Regions from separate parts of the Homo sapiens genome. Here region 2 is linked to region 1. The links come from fine-mapping of genetic effects on gene expression. Tissue or cell type: whole blood. Region 1 holds a variant in brackets; the other region holds the start of a gene. All regions are shown on one strand. Distances are from middle to middle.

What was found. PIP is the estimated chance that this variant, and not a neighbour inherited with it, causes the effect.
Region 2: it holds the start of ZNF487, and the variant in region 1 is fine-mapped to the expression of ZNF487 in whole blood (TOPMed, PIP above 0.99).

Annotation. Positions count from the first base shown.
Region 1 is chr10:43,507,097-43,515,200 of GRCh38, forward strand. It overlaps a transcript of ZNF487 not described here. Among named protein-coding and RNA genes, the nearest start is that of ZNF239, 63 kb to the right of the region's middle. The variant G/A (reference allele first, on the strand shown) is at 3,697.
Region 2 is chr10:43,433,737-43,441,840 of GRCh38, forward strand. It overlaps ZNF487 (zinc finger protein 487), which reads left to right and starts at 3,375. Exons shown (of 4, transcript NM_001355444.3): 1 at 3,375-3,526. RefSeq lists an enhancer at 2,830-2,899 and a silencer at 3,000-3,659.

The DNA.
Region 1 (8,104 bases):
TGCTCTTGGGTTTGGTGTGTTTATAGGTGGTTTATGAGGCTCCCTCCTGTAGAGGCAGCAACAACACAGCACCCTAACCAGTTGGTGCTTGAGTTCAGCTTACCACGAGTCAGGCCAGATCTCTTTTGTTGCTGTGTCTACTCTGTGAACCATCACTGGCTACCTGGGGGAGCTATACAGATGTTATTTGTGATTGTGCACCCACCCCCTGGGACAGGTCTGCCCTTCCTGAGGTTAGCGGAAAGGAAGAAAGAAGACCACTACTCCAGGGAGAATTAAACATGGCACCATGGATGCCTAGTGAGTGTTTTTCAGGCAAGAGTAATGGCCTTGCCTGGCACTTGTGCTGTTGCTTCCCCTGCTTCTGTTCAGCGTGCTCTCCTGGTGTCTAAGAGCATGAAGGTGCAAATCTGTTGTAGCCCACAACCGAGGAGCTGATGAAAAAATAGAAGGAGCATTTGGTACCAGCCTCTCCTGCTGGAGAATGTAGCTCAACTGCTTTCCCCATGCAAAACCCCTAGCCAGTGCACCTGGGCTTTGCTTAGTATGGCTGCTTACCAAGAAGCCAGAGGGCTAAGCTTGTAATGGCACAGCTTGTTGGCTCCCACCTGGGCCATAAACAAAATGACCTTCCTGGATGTGGATCCTAACCCTGGAGATATTGATTGGCCCTCCCTGTCAGAAGGGGCAGCTGCCTACAAGGTGGGCCATTGGGCCCCTGAACCTTTCCCTGTTCTCATCCAGAAGGTCCACATGGTGATGGGACAGTGACTGAAATGGAAAGCTGCAACTTATTGTGGCTAGAAATCTAAAATATTGTTTGGCAATTTATATATAGACAGCAATAAAAAAGCCTGTGTCATGGAAAAGGCGGGACTGTTGCTAAGGATAGTTTCAGTCCACCCACCACTGGGCCATGGGCCTTGCAGGTTTCCACTGCAGTACTTTGCTGCCCGAGCCTCCATTGCAAGAAAAATCCTCCTCTGTAGGGTCATAGGGAAAAGCCACCCTATGGCACCCTGTGGCATTGTGAGGGGGTTAATTCAAACCCAGCTTAAGCCTGAGGTTCTTAAACCCTGTAAACCAACCATTGCCTTGCAGGGAAGGAGGAGGCCTCTCACCCTGATGATAATGATTTGAGGCTCTCTGGAGAAAGAAATCTATAAATATGAGCAGAATAAAAAGAACTTCCCCTCCTTGTCTGTATGTTTTTAGGGGAGTTTCTGAATATAAAATAGAGACTAAATAAGTATGCCTCACCTTAACTGTTGTCTCTCCAAGATACCACATGGTCATAGCACTTATGACCTTAAAATGTACCGTGGTGGACATGGAATCAGTGAGCAATAAATTAAAATGAAGTCATTGGCACTTAACAACTTGGCTTAATGAAAAGGGACCTTGTGAAAACCACAGTTAAAATAATATCGGGCTGGGCACGGTGGCTCATGCCTGTAATCCCAGCACTTTGGGAGGCCGAGGCGGGTGGATCACCTGAGGTCAGGAGTTTGAGACCAGCCTGGCCAACATGGCAAAATCCCGTCTCTACTAAAAATACAAAAATACAAAAAACAAAAACAAAAACAAACAAACAAAAAAACTAGCCAGGTGTAGTGGTGCATGCCTGTAATCCCAGCTACTCGGGAGGCTGAGGCAGGAGAATCGTTTGAACCTGGGAGGCGGAGGTTGTAGTGAGCTAAGATTGCATCACTGCACTTCAGCCTGGGTGACAAGAGTGAAACTACACCTCAAAATAAATAAATAAATAAAATTAAATAAAATAGTTAATGTGGCCAATGTAAATTAAAACAGGGCCTTCAAGAATTAAGGCTGGGCACGGTGGCTCCCAGCATTTCAAGAGGCTGAGGCAGGCAGATTGCTTGAACTCAGGAGTTCAAGACCAGCTGGGGCACATGACAAAACGCTCTCTGTACTAAAAATACAAAAATTAGCTAGGCATGGTGGTGCACACCTGTAATCCCAGCTACTCGGGTGGCTGAGGCATGAGAATCACTTGAACACAGGAGGTGGAGGTTGCAGTGAGTCAAGATTGCACTACTGCACTCCAGCGTGGGTGACAGAGCAAGACTCTGTCCAAAAAAAAAAAAAAGAATTGAAACTTGTATGAAGGGGTGATTATCCCACTGCACCTGCATCTAGCAGCCAAACTTGGCCTTTTTAACCTGGAAAGCATGAATGTGAATAGTGCCTCATGGTGGATTACTGGAACCTTAAGGTCCTCAGACCTGATACCCAATATTATTGAAGTTACTGACTCTATCTAATAAACAACTGGTAAATATTTTGCTATTGTAGATTTGGCTTGTATTAGGGTTCTCTAGAGGGACAGAACTAATGGAACATATATATATATATATATATATATCATGGGAGTTTATTAAGGATTAACTCACACAAACACAAGGCCCCACAACACGCCATCTGCAAGCTGAGGAGCAAGGAGAACCAGTCCAACTTCCAAAAGGATTAGTTCCAAAAGGATTGGAGTCCAATGTTCGAGGGCAGGAAGCATCCAGCATGGGAGAAAGATGTAGGCGGGGAGGCTAGGCCAGTCTCTCTTTTCACGTATTTCTGCCTATATATATTCTAGCCTCGCTGTCAGCTGATTAGATTGTGCCCACCCAGATTAAGGTGGGTCTGCCTTTCCCAGCCCACTGACTCAAATGTTAATCTTCTTTGGCAACCCCCTCACAGACACGCCCGGGATCCATACTTTGTATCCTTCAATACAATTAAGTTGACACTCAGTATTAACCATCACAAGTCCACCGGTTGTCAACTTGAACCCATACACATCTCCTGAGATCATATATAATCTTCAAATAAAGACAATAATAAGGTCATAATTATGCCTAACATAATACAACTGTCCTTCATACAATGGGAAACGTACCAATTCCCAACCCAAATACTATTACATAAAGTTAACAATACATAAATGCTGATGTGAAGTCAATAAATCTTATGTCACATGATAAAGGGAAAGGAAATAAAATGAAGATTTTTTTAGTACAAGTATATATATGCACAAACATGTTCTTAACAAAAGAGGGAGGAAATATGACAATTACAGTCCTCGTTTCTGCAGCTGGTCACATGGTCATAGCTGGTATTGATGACTACCTTCATCTATTACCCATTCTGTATTCCCTTTGCCTTCAGCAAGCACCTCAGCAGGTCATGGTTTTTTTCCTGGTGGAGTGACCCAAACCTTCATTCCTGAAGGGTCTGGGTCATTTGTAGTCCTGGCTGGATTGGGCTGTTGTAGTTTCCCATTGATCTAATTACAGCACATGGTAATACCAAGAGACACCCTAATGGATCTCCTGTATTCCATGCATACTCTTCCTTACCTCCATTGTGGAGTAGTAGACTGATTCCATCTTGATAATCCGGGACAACCATCCCAGGCAACACTGTAACTCCCTTTTTTTTGTTTGTTTTTTTTGAGAAGGAGTCTCACTCTGTCGCCCAGGCTGGAGTGCAATGGCATGATCTTGGTTCACTGCAACCTCTGCCTCCCGGGTTCAAGCAATTCTCCTGCCTCAGCCTCCTGAGTAGCTGGGATTACAGGCACATGCCACCATGCCTGGCTAATTTTTGTATTTTTAGTAGAGACAGGGTTTCACCATGTTGGTCAGGCTGGTCTCAAACTCCTGACCTCATGATCCGCCC[G/A]CCTTGGCCTCCCAAAGTGCGGGGATTATAGGCGTGAGCCACCGTGCCCGGCCCTGTAACTCCCTTCTTAGCCGGTTCACTTAAAGGTAGAAGAAGCCCAAAGTGTTCAGGTGGCAATCTTCCAGTTTAATGGAATTGTTGTTGGGTCTCCTGGTGGCAGTGTTCCTCCCTATGGAACTAAGACCTCTAGGCCAGCAGAACGTAATTTTGCGGGAACAGGAAGCAAAAATTTTGCTTGTGGAACACTAGGGGTGATGGTAACTGGTGCCACTTTCACTTCCATCCCTTGATTCCTGGACCCATGAATCCTGGCTATGGGAGAAACAGTACCATATATTGGATGCTGATTCAGAGCATACACAGCCTTCTGGAGAACTTTGCCCCAGCCTTGCAAAATATTGTCACCTAGTTGGTGTTATATTTGTGACTTCAAAAGGCCATTCCACTGTTCTGTCAATCCAGCTGCTTCAGGATGATGGGGAACATGGTTAGATGAGTCAATTCCATGAGCATGAGCCCACTGCCGCACTTTTTTAGCCATAAAGTAAGCACCTTGGTTAGAGGACGTGCTGTGTGGAATACTGTGATGGTGGATAAGGCATTCTGTGAGTCCACAGATGGTAGTCTTGGCAGAAGCATTGTGTGCAGGATAGGCAAACCCATATCCAGAGTAAGTGTCTATTCTAATGACGACAAACCTCTGTCCATTCCATGATGGAAGAGGTCCAATATAATCAACCTGCCACCAGGTAGCTGGCTGATCACCCGAGGAATGGTGCCATATCAAGGGCTCAGTGTTGGTCTCTGCTGCTAGCAAATAGGGCACTCATCAGTGACCATAGCCAGGTCAGCCTCGGTGAGTGGAAGTCCATGTTGCTGAGCCCATACATAACCTCCACTCTTGCCACCATGGCCACTTTGTTCATGGGCCCATTAGGCGACGACAGGGGTGGCTGAGGAAAGAGGCTGAGTGCTGTCCACGGAACGGGTCATCCTATCCACTTGATTATTAAAATCCTCCTCTGCTGAGGTCACCTGTTGGTGAGCACTCACATGGGATACAAATATCTTCACAGTTTTTGACCACTGAGAGAGATCCATCCACACACCTCTTCCCCAAGTTTGTCACCAATTTTCCAGTAATGCTTCTTCCAAGTCCCTGACCATCCAGCCAAACCATTGGCTACAGCCAATTAATCAATATATAATCGCACATGTGGCCATTTCTCCTTCCATGTAAAGTGCACAACCAGGTGCACTGCTCAACGTTCTGCCCACTGGGAAGATTTCCCTTCACCGCTGTCCTTCAGAGATGTCCTAGAAAGGGGCTGTAGTGCTGCAGCTGTCCACTTTCAGGTGATGCCTGCATATCGTGCAGAATCATCTGTGAACCAGGCCCTAGTCCTCTTTTCCTCTGTTCACTGATCATAGGGAACTCCCCATGAGGCCATCGGTGCAGGCTGGGGGAGAGAAGGCATGGTGGCAGGAGTGGAGACCATGGGCATTTGAGCCACTTCCTCATGTAACTCACTTGTGCCTTCAGGACCTGCTCGAGCCTGATCACATATATGCCACTTCCGTTTGATGATGGAATGCTGCTGCGCATGACCCACTTTATGGCTATATGAGTCAGAAAGCACCCAGTTCATAATAGGCAGTTCAGGTTGCCAGGTGACTTGATGACCCATAGTCAAACCTTCAGTTTCCACCAGAGCCCAGTAATAGGCCAAGAACTGTCTCTCATAAGGAGAGTAGTTATCTGCAGAAGATGGCAGGGCCTTGCTCCAAAATCCTAGAAGCTTCCATCGTGATTCACCTATGGGGGCCTGCCAAAGGCTCCAAACAGCACCCTGTCTGTCACTGACACCTCCAGCACCATTGGATCTGTTGGGTCATATGGCTCAAGTGGCAGAGCAGCTTGCACAGCAGCCTGGACCTATTGCAGAGCATTCTTCTGTTCTGGACCCCACTCAAAACTGACAGCCTTTCGGGTCACTTGATAAATGGGCTGGAGTAACACACCCAGATGAGGAATGCTTTGCCTCCAAAATCCAAATAGGCCTACTAGGCATTGTGCCTTTCTTGGTTGAAGGAATGGTCAAATGCAGCAACTTATTCTTCACCTTAGAAGGAATATCTCAACAGGCCCCACACCACTGGACCCCTAGAAATTTTACTGAGGTAGAAGTTCCCTGAATTTAAGTCAGTTTTATTTCTCATCCTCTGGCACACAAATGTCTCACCAGTAAGTCCAGTGTGTTTGCTACTTCTTGCTCACTGGATCCAGTCAGCATAATATCATCAATGTAATGGACCAGTGTGATATCTTGCGGCAGCGAAAAGTGATCAAGGTGTCTCCAAATAAGAAAAAGCGATCAAGGTGCTTCCGAATAAGATTATGACACAAAGCCAGAGAATTGATATACCCTGGAGGTAGGACAGTAAAGGTATATTGCTGGCCTTGCCAGCTGAAGGCAAATTGCTTTTGGTGGGCCTTATGGACAGGAATGGAGGAAAAGACATTTGCCAAGACAATGGCTGCATACCACCTACCAGGAAATGTGCTAATTTGCTCAAGCAATGAAACCACATCTGGTACAGCAGCTGCAATTGGAGTCACCACTTTGTTAAGCTTACAATAATCCATGGTCATTCTCCAAGATCTGTCGTCTGCACAGGCTAAATGGGAGAGCTGAATGGGGATGTGGTGGGAATCACCACCCCAGCGTCTTTCAAGTCCTTGGTAGTAGCACTAATCTCCACAGTCTCTCCAGGGATGTGATATTGTTTTTGATTTACTATTTTTCTAGGTAAAGGCAGCTCTAATGGCTTTCATTTGGCCTTTACCACCATAATAGCCCTTATCCTACCAGTCAGGGAGCCAATATGGGAGTTCTGCCAGCTGCTAAGTATGTCTATGCCAATTATGCATTCTGGCACTCAGGAATGACCACAGGGTAAGTCCGGGGACCCACTGGACCCACTGTAAGTTGGGCCTGAGCTAAAATTTCATTAATTACCTGATCTCTATAAGCCCCTACTTTAACTGTAGGACCAGTGATGTTTTGGGTCCCCTGGAATCGTTAGCTCAGAGCCAGTGTCCAGCAGTCCCCGAAATGTCTGATCATTTCACTTTCCCCAGTGCACAGTTACCCTGGTAAAAGGTTGGAGGTCTCCTTGTGGAAGGATGGGAGAAAGAGTCACTATGTAAATTGTCGGTAATGTAGTAGGGTTCTTCCTCAAGGGGACCTGGTCTCCCCTTCATTCAAGGGGTTCTGGATCTGTAAACTGGCTCAAGTCTGGAAATTGATTGAGGGGTTGTGATTCTCTAGTTTGTTTTTTTGTTTGTTTTTGTTGTTTGTTTTTGAGACAGAGTCTCCCTCTGTCATTCAGGCTGGAATGCATTGGTGTGATCTCGACTCACTGCAACCTCCACTTCCTGGGTTCAAGCAATTCTCCAGCCTCAGCCTCCTGAGTAGCTGGGATTACAGGTTTGTGCCACCATGCCTGGCTAATTTTTGTATTTTTAGTACAGATGGGGTTTCACCATGTTGGCCAGGCTAGTCTTGAACTCCTGAGCTCAGGTGATCCACCTGCCTTGGCCTCCCAAAGTGCTGGGATTATAGGTGTGAGCCACTGTGCTGGCTGATTCTCTGTTTTTATAATTCAAATTAGACTTTTGTCCCTTCGACTTAGAAATTTTCTGCTTATATAAATTAAGTAGGAATGCAGTAGGCTTCCTATCACTTTCACTTGTAGGAACACCATGATTAGCCAATGCTAGAGCTCTACATTAGTCAGGATCTTCTGATTGCCACTTTGCCTCTGCTGTCCATCAGAGTAGCCACGCCCACCTTGCCTTTGATGGTTGAGTGCTGCCACTTGGCCCCTGCCACCTTGGGATCCAATTATTCCCATTATATTTAAATTTTGTAGTTGAGTGTCTGCAGTTCCCACTGTTAGATCTGACATACAGAGAAGAGCAATTAGAGGGCTCTTCAAAGATGCAGGTGTTGCCCTCACAAATCTGTTTCACAAGGCATTGGTCAAGGGTATATCTTCTGGGCCCTCCCAGCTGGGATGAGTAGGTCTAAAGTGACTAATCCACTCCACCATCCCAATCTCCCTAAGCCTTTGTATCCCTTCCTCTACGTTAAACCAAGGGAGATGAGGCATATCCAGCTTGCTCACAGTGGATCATCTTCTTATCTGTATTTTAGCTAACCAAGCAAATAAACTATTAGAACCTTTTTTAACTACCCAAGTGGCAACATTGAATGCAGAGTCCGTACTTAGTGGACTCAAATCAATAAATTCAGCCTGATCAAACTTTGTGTTCTTTCCACCATTATCCCACACCCTTAATATCCATTCCCATGCCTGTTCTGCAGATTTATTTATATGAATT
Region 2 (8,104 bases), 73 kb before region 1:
CACCATTGCACTCCAGCCCGGGAGACAGTGCGAGACACCATCTCAAAAAAAAAAAAAAAAAAAAATCAGCTGGGTGTGGTGGTGACCCCCTGTCGTCCCAGCTACCGGGAGGCTGAGAGGCTGAGGTGGGAAGATTGCTTGAGCTGTCAAGGCTGCAGCGAGCTGAGATCCTGCCACTGCACTCCTGGCTAGGGGATGGTGCAAGACCCTGTCTCAAAGAGTTAAAAAAAAAAAGAAAGAAAAATTTATTTTGATTTTTCATTAGAGTATAGGCTCTGAAGTTTCATTTGTGCATATGAGTTACGTATCCTTCATATATAAGTGTATCTATATTTGCCGTGTCTACCAGTCAGACTACAAAAGGCATACATATGGTGGAATGATGATTTGCTATTTCAGTGAATGCATATATTCCTCACTGTGAACTAGTTATTATTTGGGGCTGTTAGTTGCTGCAATGAGACATCACACCTCTGAAACCATGGGGTGTCTTAGGAGACTTGTTAGAGGGCTTGTTATACCATTTGGACTTGTGGCTGGTGATTTTGGGGAGGGTCCAAGGACAGGGGTGTGTTTTGGATTGGTGCTGTACTAACAGGGGCAACTCAAAGATTATTATTATTTTTTTTTTTGAGATGGAGTCTCGCTTTTTCACCCAAGCTGGAGTGCAGTGGCGCGATCTCGGCTCACTGCAGGCTCCGCCCCGCGGGGTTCACGCCATTCTCCTGCCTCAGCCTCCCGAGTAGCTGGGACTACAGGCGCCCGCCACCTCGCCCGGCTAATTTTTTGTATTTTTAGTAGAGACGGGGTTTCACCGTGTTAGCCAGGATGGTCTCGATTTCCTGACCTCGTGATCCGCCCGCCTCGGCCTCCCAAAGTGCTGGGATTACAGGCGTGAGCCACCGCGCCCGGCCACTCAAAGATTATTTCAACAATTTTAGGTGGGGCGCGGTGGCTCATGCCTGTAATCCCAGCACTCTGGGAGGCCGAGGCAGGCGATCACTTGAGGTCAGGAGTTTGAGACCAGCCTGGCCAACCTGGTGAAACCCCATCTCTACTAGGTGGCAGGTGCCTGTAATCCCAGCTATTCGAGAGGCTGAGACAGGAGAATTGCTTGAACCTGGGAGGCAGAGGTTGCAGTGAGCCGAAATTGTGCTACTTCACTCCAGCCTGGGCGACAGAGCAAGACTCCTTCTCAAAAAAAAAAAAAAAAAATTTTTTTTAAATCCAGAAAGCAGGAGGAATAGAGAGGAGCTAAAGCTGTCATTGGAGAAAAAGCAGTAATTACTCATGCTAGCTGAAGAAGGGATGTTTATTCTTCTGTGTGTGTGGTTGCGCAGTGCCAGTTTTTATTTATGCAGGCAAGATCACTGATCGGAATTATTTTCTCCTTCCCTCAGTCACAGAAAGAACTCGTCTGATATCAATTTTCTGTGAACCTGTTTATGTTCATCAAGTAATCCAGGCCAGCTACCGTGGGTCTCAGGGCTTTTTTTTTTTTTTTTTTTTTTTTTTGGGACAGAGTCTCGCTCTTGTTGCCCAGGCTGGAGTGCAATGGCGAGATCTCGGCTCACAGCAACCTCTGCCTCCCGGGTGCAAGCTATTCTCCTGCCTCAGCCTCCCGAATAACTGGGATCACAGGCATGTGCCACCACACCCAGCTAATTTTGAATTTTTAGTAGAGTTGGAGTTTCACCATGTAGGCCAGACTGATCTTAAACTCCTGATCTCAGGTGATCCACCCGCCTTGGCCTCCCAATGTGTTAGGATTACAGGCGTAAGCCACCACGCCCGGGCTTTTTATTTTTTTTCTTAATGATGCTGCACCTAATCACATTTAGGTGGCAGGCAAAAGAATATTGCTTAGCTGCTTTGCTACAGAAATGACAACTCTTGGGCAGGGGCGCGGTGGCTCACGCCTGTAATCCTACCACTTTGGGAGGCCGAGGCCAGTGGATCACCTGAGGTCAAGAGTTCGACACCAGGCCGGGCACGGTGGCTCATGCCTGTAATCCCAGCACTTTGGGAGGCCGAGACGGGCGGATCACGAGGTCAGGAGATCAAGACCAACCTGGCTAACACGGTGAAACCCCGTCTCTACTAAAAATACAAAAAATTAGCCGGGCGTGGTGGCGGGCGCCTGTAGTCCCAGCTACTCGGGAGGCTGAGGCAAGACAATGGCGTGACCCTGGGAGGCGGAGCTTGCAGTGAGCTGAGATCGCGCCACTGCACTCCACCCTGGGTGACAGAGCGAGACTCCGTCTCAAAAAAAAAAAAAAAAAAAAAAAAAAAGAGTTCGACACCAGCCTGGCCAAAATGGTGAAACCCCATCTCTACTAAAAACAAAAAAAATTAACCGGGCGTGGTGGCGGACGACTGTAATCCCAGCTACTCGGGAGCCTGAGGTAGGAGAATCACTTGAACTCGGGAGGCGGAGGTTGCAGTGAGCCAAGATCGCGCCACTGCACTCCAGCCTGGGCAACAAGAGCGAAACTTCGTCTCCAAAAAAAAAAAAAAAAAAAAGGACAACTTTTGATCCCTGAGGCTGCTAATTCCAACTGTGTGCATGTGCTTAACAAATACCTCCGCACCCAGGCCTGGGAAGTTGGCTGATTTGTGTACAGCAAATACGGCAGGCCTGATGTAGCAGAACTCTGACGAAAACGAACTGGACGCGTATTTCTCCTGCAGCGAAGGTCACGCTGCTGACAGCCTCTGCTTTGCACTTTGTCCCTGGGAAGGAGGCCTGTGGCCAGTCCTACCTCCTGGAAAGCCGGGGTGCGTCAGAGGACCTGATGCGGAGCGGGGACCCCATCCTCTCCGTGTCTCCCCAAGAGCCGGCGGCAGAGGCTGCCTGCGCTCCTTAAGCTAGGTCAGTTCTCTGGCCCGCAGTTCTCGTTCTCCTAACATCCTCCGCAGAAAACGACCTTCATTTTTTCCTCTTGCGCCAGTCTTGAAGCGGGGCGTCCTTTGGGCTCACGTTGCGGCGCCCAGCGGCCTCAAGCGTCAGCTGCCTCCAGGGCCTCAGGAGCAGTGGCTAGGGCCTGCCCTCCAGCGCCCGGGGTCCTCGGCCCAGCCCTGCTCCGAGCGCGTCACAATGGCGTCGCGGCCCCGCCCCCGGACGCCCAGCCGCGGTCCCAGCGACCTTCGCTTTCGTGGGGAAGCCGGACTGCGCCGTGTCTTCCTGAAGAAGGCTGGGGTAAGAGTCCGGCCAGCGGACAAGAGGGCAGCTGGTAGCAGGGTGGGATGCCCGTGGCATAGGGCCGAGCCCCCGCTAGGCACGCGGGAGCAGCAAGGCTTCCGGAAGCGCAGGGAGCGCTGGACTGGCGGGCGCCCGGGATTCGCGCAGGCCCCGCCCCTCGGCGGCCCCGCCCAGGGAGCGCTGCGGCAGTTTCCATGGTGAGATGGTCAACAAGCCTGTAAGTTCCTCAGCTACGACTACCAGGTACCTCGGGTTCCTCCCTCCTCCGAGAGACCGCCGAGGTGCGGGCTGTGAGAGGGGGAGCGTGGAGCCTCCGAGGCCGAGGTGAGGGGCGGCCGGCGGGCAGGGGCCGGGTCTGAGGTCGAGGGCCGCACACCCAGGATCGAGCGGGGACTGGGCCCGCTGGGGGTGGGGACCGTGGGGCTGGGATTTGGGATCAGGGCGAGTCGTGGCAGAGAGAACCCGGAGGATCTTTGACCCCAGTGCGGGAGCGGCCAGCCCACCCTAGAGAAGCGAGACAAGGGCAACCAGAAGGAACCGAGTCTGAGGAAGCGCTTCCTCTGGGCAGGGATATTGGGAGAGTCCTGGACGAGTGACCCTGGACCTAGGAGGCATGAGAGGTCTACACACACTTGCAAGGATACCTTCATGATTGTTGAGTTGTGGTGAGAAAAGAGGCTCTTTTTAGTTTATTTTTTAAGGCAGTACATTCACATCCTTAAGAGTCAGAAACTTGCACAAGGCCTTATTACTCAAAACTCCCTTTTCCCAGTTCCTTCTGAGGAAATAGTTGCAAATCTTTGAACTTTTTTCCTCCGGAAATTTTCTTTTTTTCTCTTACATCGGCAGCTCTTCACTGTGTTCTTCCTTCATTAGCTTTACTAAGTTTGTATTCTTTGGTTGGAAATATTTATTTATTTATTTATTTATAAATAGAAACAGGGGTATCACTATGTTGCTCAGGCTGGTCTTGAACTCCTGGGCTCAAGTGATTCTCCTGCTTTAGCTTTCCAAAGTGCGGGGATTACAGGCTGAACCACCGCCTGCCACCGAAATATTTCTTCATTGAGTTCCTTTGCCTCCTAGTGTTACTTTTCTGCTGTGTGTGTAATAGCCATTTGTTTTTTCTTTCTCCTTTCTGGTCATATCCTTAAATACATTTTGCACTAATTCCTTTTGAAACCTCATCATGGAGAGAACTTGAATTTAGCAGATTAGGGGTGAGTGCAGGCTTTTGTCTTAGGTTCCATATATATATATATTTTGAGGTGGAGTCTCCCTCTGTCGCCCAGGCTGGAGTGCAGTGGCGTGATTTTGGCTCACTGAAACCTCCACCTCCTGGCTTCAAGCAATTCTCCTGCCTCAGCCTCCCAAGTGACGAGGGTTACAGGCACGTGCCACCACACCCGGCTAATTTTTGTATTTTTAGTAGAGACAGGGTTTTGCCTTGTTGGCCAGGCTGGTCTCGAATTATTGACCTCAGGTGATCCACCTGCCTCAGCCCCCCAAAGTGCTGGGATTACAGGCGTGAGCCACTGCACCCAGCCCCCATATATTAAGAAATATACCCTTGTGTATTGTTGGTAAGAATGTAAAATGGTACAGCAGCTATGGAAAACAGTATGGCAGTTCCCTCAAAAAATTAACAAATAGAATTGCCATATGATCCAGCAGTACCACTTCTGGGTCTGAATCCAAGAGAAATGAAAGCGGGGACTCAGTTACTTGTACAGTCATGTTCATAGCAGCATTATTTGCAATAGTCAAAAGGGAGAGGTAACCCCAGTGTCCATTGATAGATGGATAAACAAAATGTGTCATATACAATAGAATATCATTCAGCCTTAGGAAGAAAATCTTGGCTGGATGCAGCGGCTCATGCTGGTAATCCCAGCACTTTGGGAGGCCAAGGTGGGAGGATTGCTTGAGTCCAGGAGTTCCAGACCAGCCTGAGCAACATAGCGAGATCCTGTTTCCACAAAAAATAAAATAAAATAAAGAATACAAAAATTAGCTGGGCAGGCCGGGCGCGGTGTCTCACGCCTGTAGTCCCAGCACTTTGGGAGGTCGAGGTGGGTGGATCAGAGGGTCAGGAGTTTGAGACCAGCCTGGCCAATATGGTGAAACCTTGTCTCTACTAAAAGTACAAAAATATTAGCCGGGCATGGTGGCACATGCCTGTAATCCCAGCTACTTGAGAGGCTGAGGCAGAAGAATTGCTTGAATCCGGGAGGCCGAGGTTGCAGTGAGCCGAGATCACGCCACTGCACTCCAGCCTGGGTGACAGAACGAGATTCCGTCTCAAAAAAAAATCAGCTGGGCATTGTGGCATGTGCCTGTAGTCCTAGCTACTCTGGAAGCTGAAGTCGGAGGATTACATGTGCCTAGGAGGTTGAGGCTTCAGTGAGCCATGATTGCACTGCTGTACTCCACCCTGAGTGACAGAGCAAGACTCCATCTCTTCAAAAAATAAAAATAAGATGGCCGGGTGCGGTGGCTAACGCCTGTAATCCCAGCACTTGGGGAGGCCGAGGAGGGCAGATCACCTAAGGTCAGGAGTTCAAGACCAGCCTGGCCAACATGGTGAAACCCTGTCTCTACTAAAAATACAAAAATTAGCTGGGCATGGTGGTGGGCGCCTGTAATCCCAACTACTCAGGAAGCTGAGGCAGGGAGAATTGCTTGAACCTGGGAGGTGGAGGTTGCAGTGAGCCGAGATGGCACCACTACACTCTAGCCTGGGTGACAGAGTGAGACTCCATCTCAAAAATAAATAAATAAGTGAAAATAAAAAAGAAAATGTCATATGCTGCAACATGGATGAATGTTGACGATATTATGTTAAGTGAAGTAAACCAGTAATGGACAAATATTGTATGATCCCCACTTATATGAGAATCTGAAGTAGTCAAATTCATGTAAACAGAAAAGTAGAATGGTGGTTGCTAGAGGCTGCGGTAAGGAGGAATGGGAAGTTGTTTAATGGGTACAGAGTTTCAGATTTGCAAGATGAAAATGTTCTAGAGATCTGTTTCACAACAATGTGAATCTACTTAAGACTGAACTGTACACTTTAAAAAGGTTAATTGGTAAGTTTTGTTTTATATATATATATATTTTTTTTTTTGAGGCGAAGTTTCACTCATGTTGCCCAGGCTGGAGTGCAGTGGAGAGATCTCAGCTAACTGCAGCCTCTGCCTGCCCGGCTCAAGCAATTCTCCTGCCTCAGCCTCCCGAGTAGCTAGGATTACAGGTGCCCGCCACCATGCCTGGCTAATTTTTTATATTTTTAGTAGAGACGGGCTTTTGGCATGTTGGCCAGGCTGATCTCAAACTCCTGGCCTCAGGTAATACGCCCGCCTCGGCCTCCCAAAGTGCTGGGATTACAGGTGTGAACCACTGTGCCCTGCCTATATTTTTAATCAAAGGAGTTTAAGGACGGGCACAGTGGCTCACACCTATAATCCCAGCACTTTGGGAGTCCGAAGTGGTAGGATCACCTGAGATCAGCAGTTTGAGACCAGCCTGTTCAACATGGTAAAACCCTATCTGTACCAAAAAATACAAAAATTAGCCCGGCATGGTAATGCTTACCTGTAGTCCCAGCTACTTGGGAGGCTGATGTGGGAGAATCTCTTGAATCTGGGAGGCAGAGGCAGCAGTGAGCTGAGATTGCGCCACTGCACTCCAGCCTGGGCAACAGAGTGAGACTCTGTCTCAAAAAAAAAAAAGAAAAAAAGAAACAGAAGACTACCCTCATATTTGTGGTCCTTTGTGTAGTTCCGCCTCATGGCTCCCTCCTTTGCCCTAGGGTAACCACTGTCTTCAACTTTATGCTTGTCACTTAACTTGCTTTTCTTTATAATTTGACTAAAATTGTTTGTATCCCAAAAAAAGACATATTGAGTAGTTTTGCATAACCTTGGACTTTTTTTTTGTTGTTTGTTTTTGAGAGAGTCACTGTGTTGCCTAGGCTGGAGTGCAGTTGTGTGATCATAGTTCACTGTAGCCTCGATCTTCTTGGCTCCAGAAATCCTCCCACCTTAGCCTCCCAAGTAGCTAGGACCACAGGTAAATGCTACCACACCTGGTTAAATTTTTTTTTTTTTTTTTTTTTTTTTTTTTTTTTTGGTGGAGACAGGGTCTCCCTGTATTGCCCAGGCTGGTCTTGAACTCGTGGGCTTAAGCAATCCTTCCACCTCAGCCTCTCAAAGTGCAGGTATTACAGGCATGAGCCAGGCTGCTTTCAAACTCCTAACCTCAAGTGATCCACTTGGCTTGGCCTCCCAAAGTGCTGGGAGTATAGACATGAGCCACTGCACCAGACCGCTTTGCCTTTTTTTTTGAGACGGAGTCTCACTCCTTCGCCCAGGCTGGAGTGCAGTGGCACGATCTCGGCTCACTGCAACTTCCGCCTCCCGGGTTCCAGCAATTCTCCTGTCTCAGCCTCCCGACTAGCTGGGACTACAGACACCTGCCACCGGGCCCGGCTAATTTTTTGTATTTTTAGTAGAGACGGGGTTTCACCTTGTTGGTCAGGTTGGTCTCGAACTCCTGACCTCAGGTGATCCACCCACCTCGGCCTCCTAAAGTTCTGGGATTACAGGCATGAGCCACCGCGCCTGGCCAATTTTTGTAGAGACAGGGTTTTGCCATGTTGCCCCAGCTAGTCAGGGTCTCTCTGTCACCCAGGCGGGAGTTGCAGTGGTGCGATCTCGGCTCACTGCAACGTCTGCCTCCTGGGTTCAAGTGATTCTCCTGCCTCAGCCTCCTGAGTACCTTGGATTATAGGTGCATGCCACTGTGCTTGGCTGATTTTTGTATTTCTAGTTGAGACGGGGTTTCACCATGTTGGCCAGGCATGTCTTGAACTCCTGACCTCAAGTGATCCACCCGCGTTGG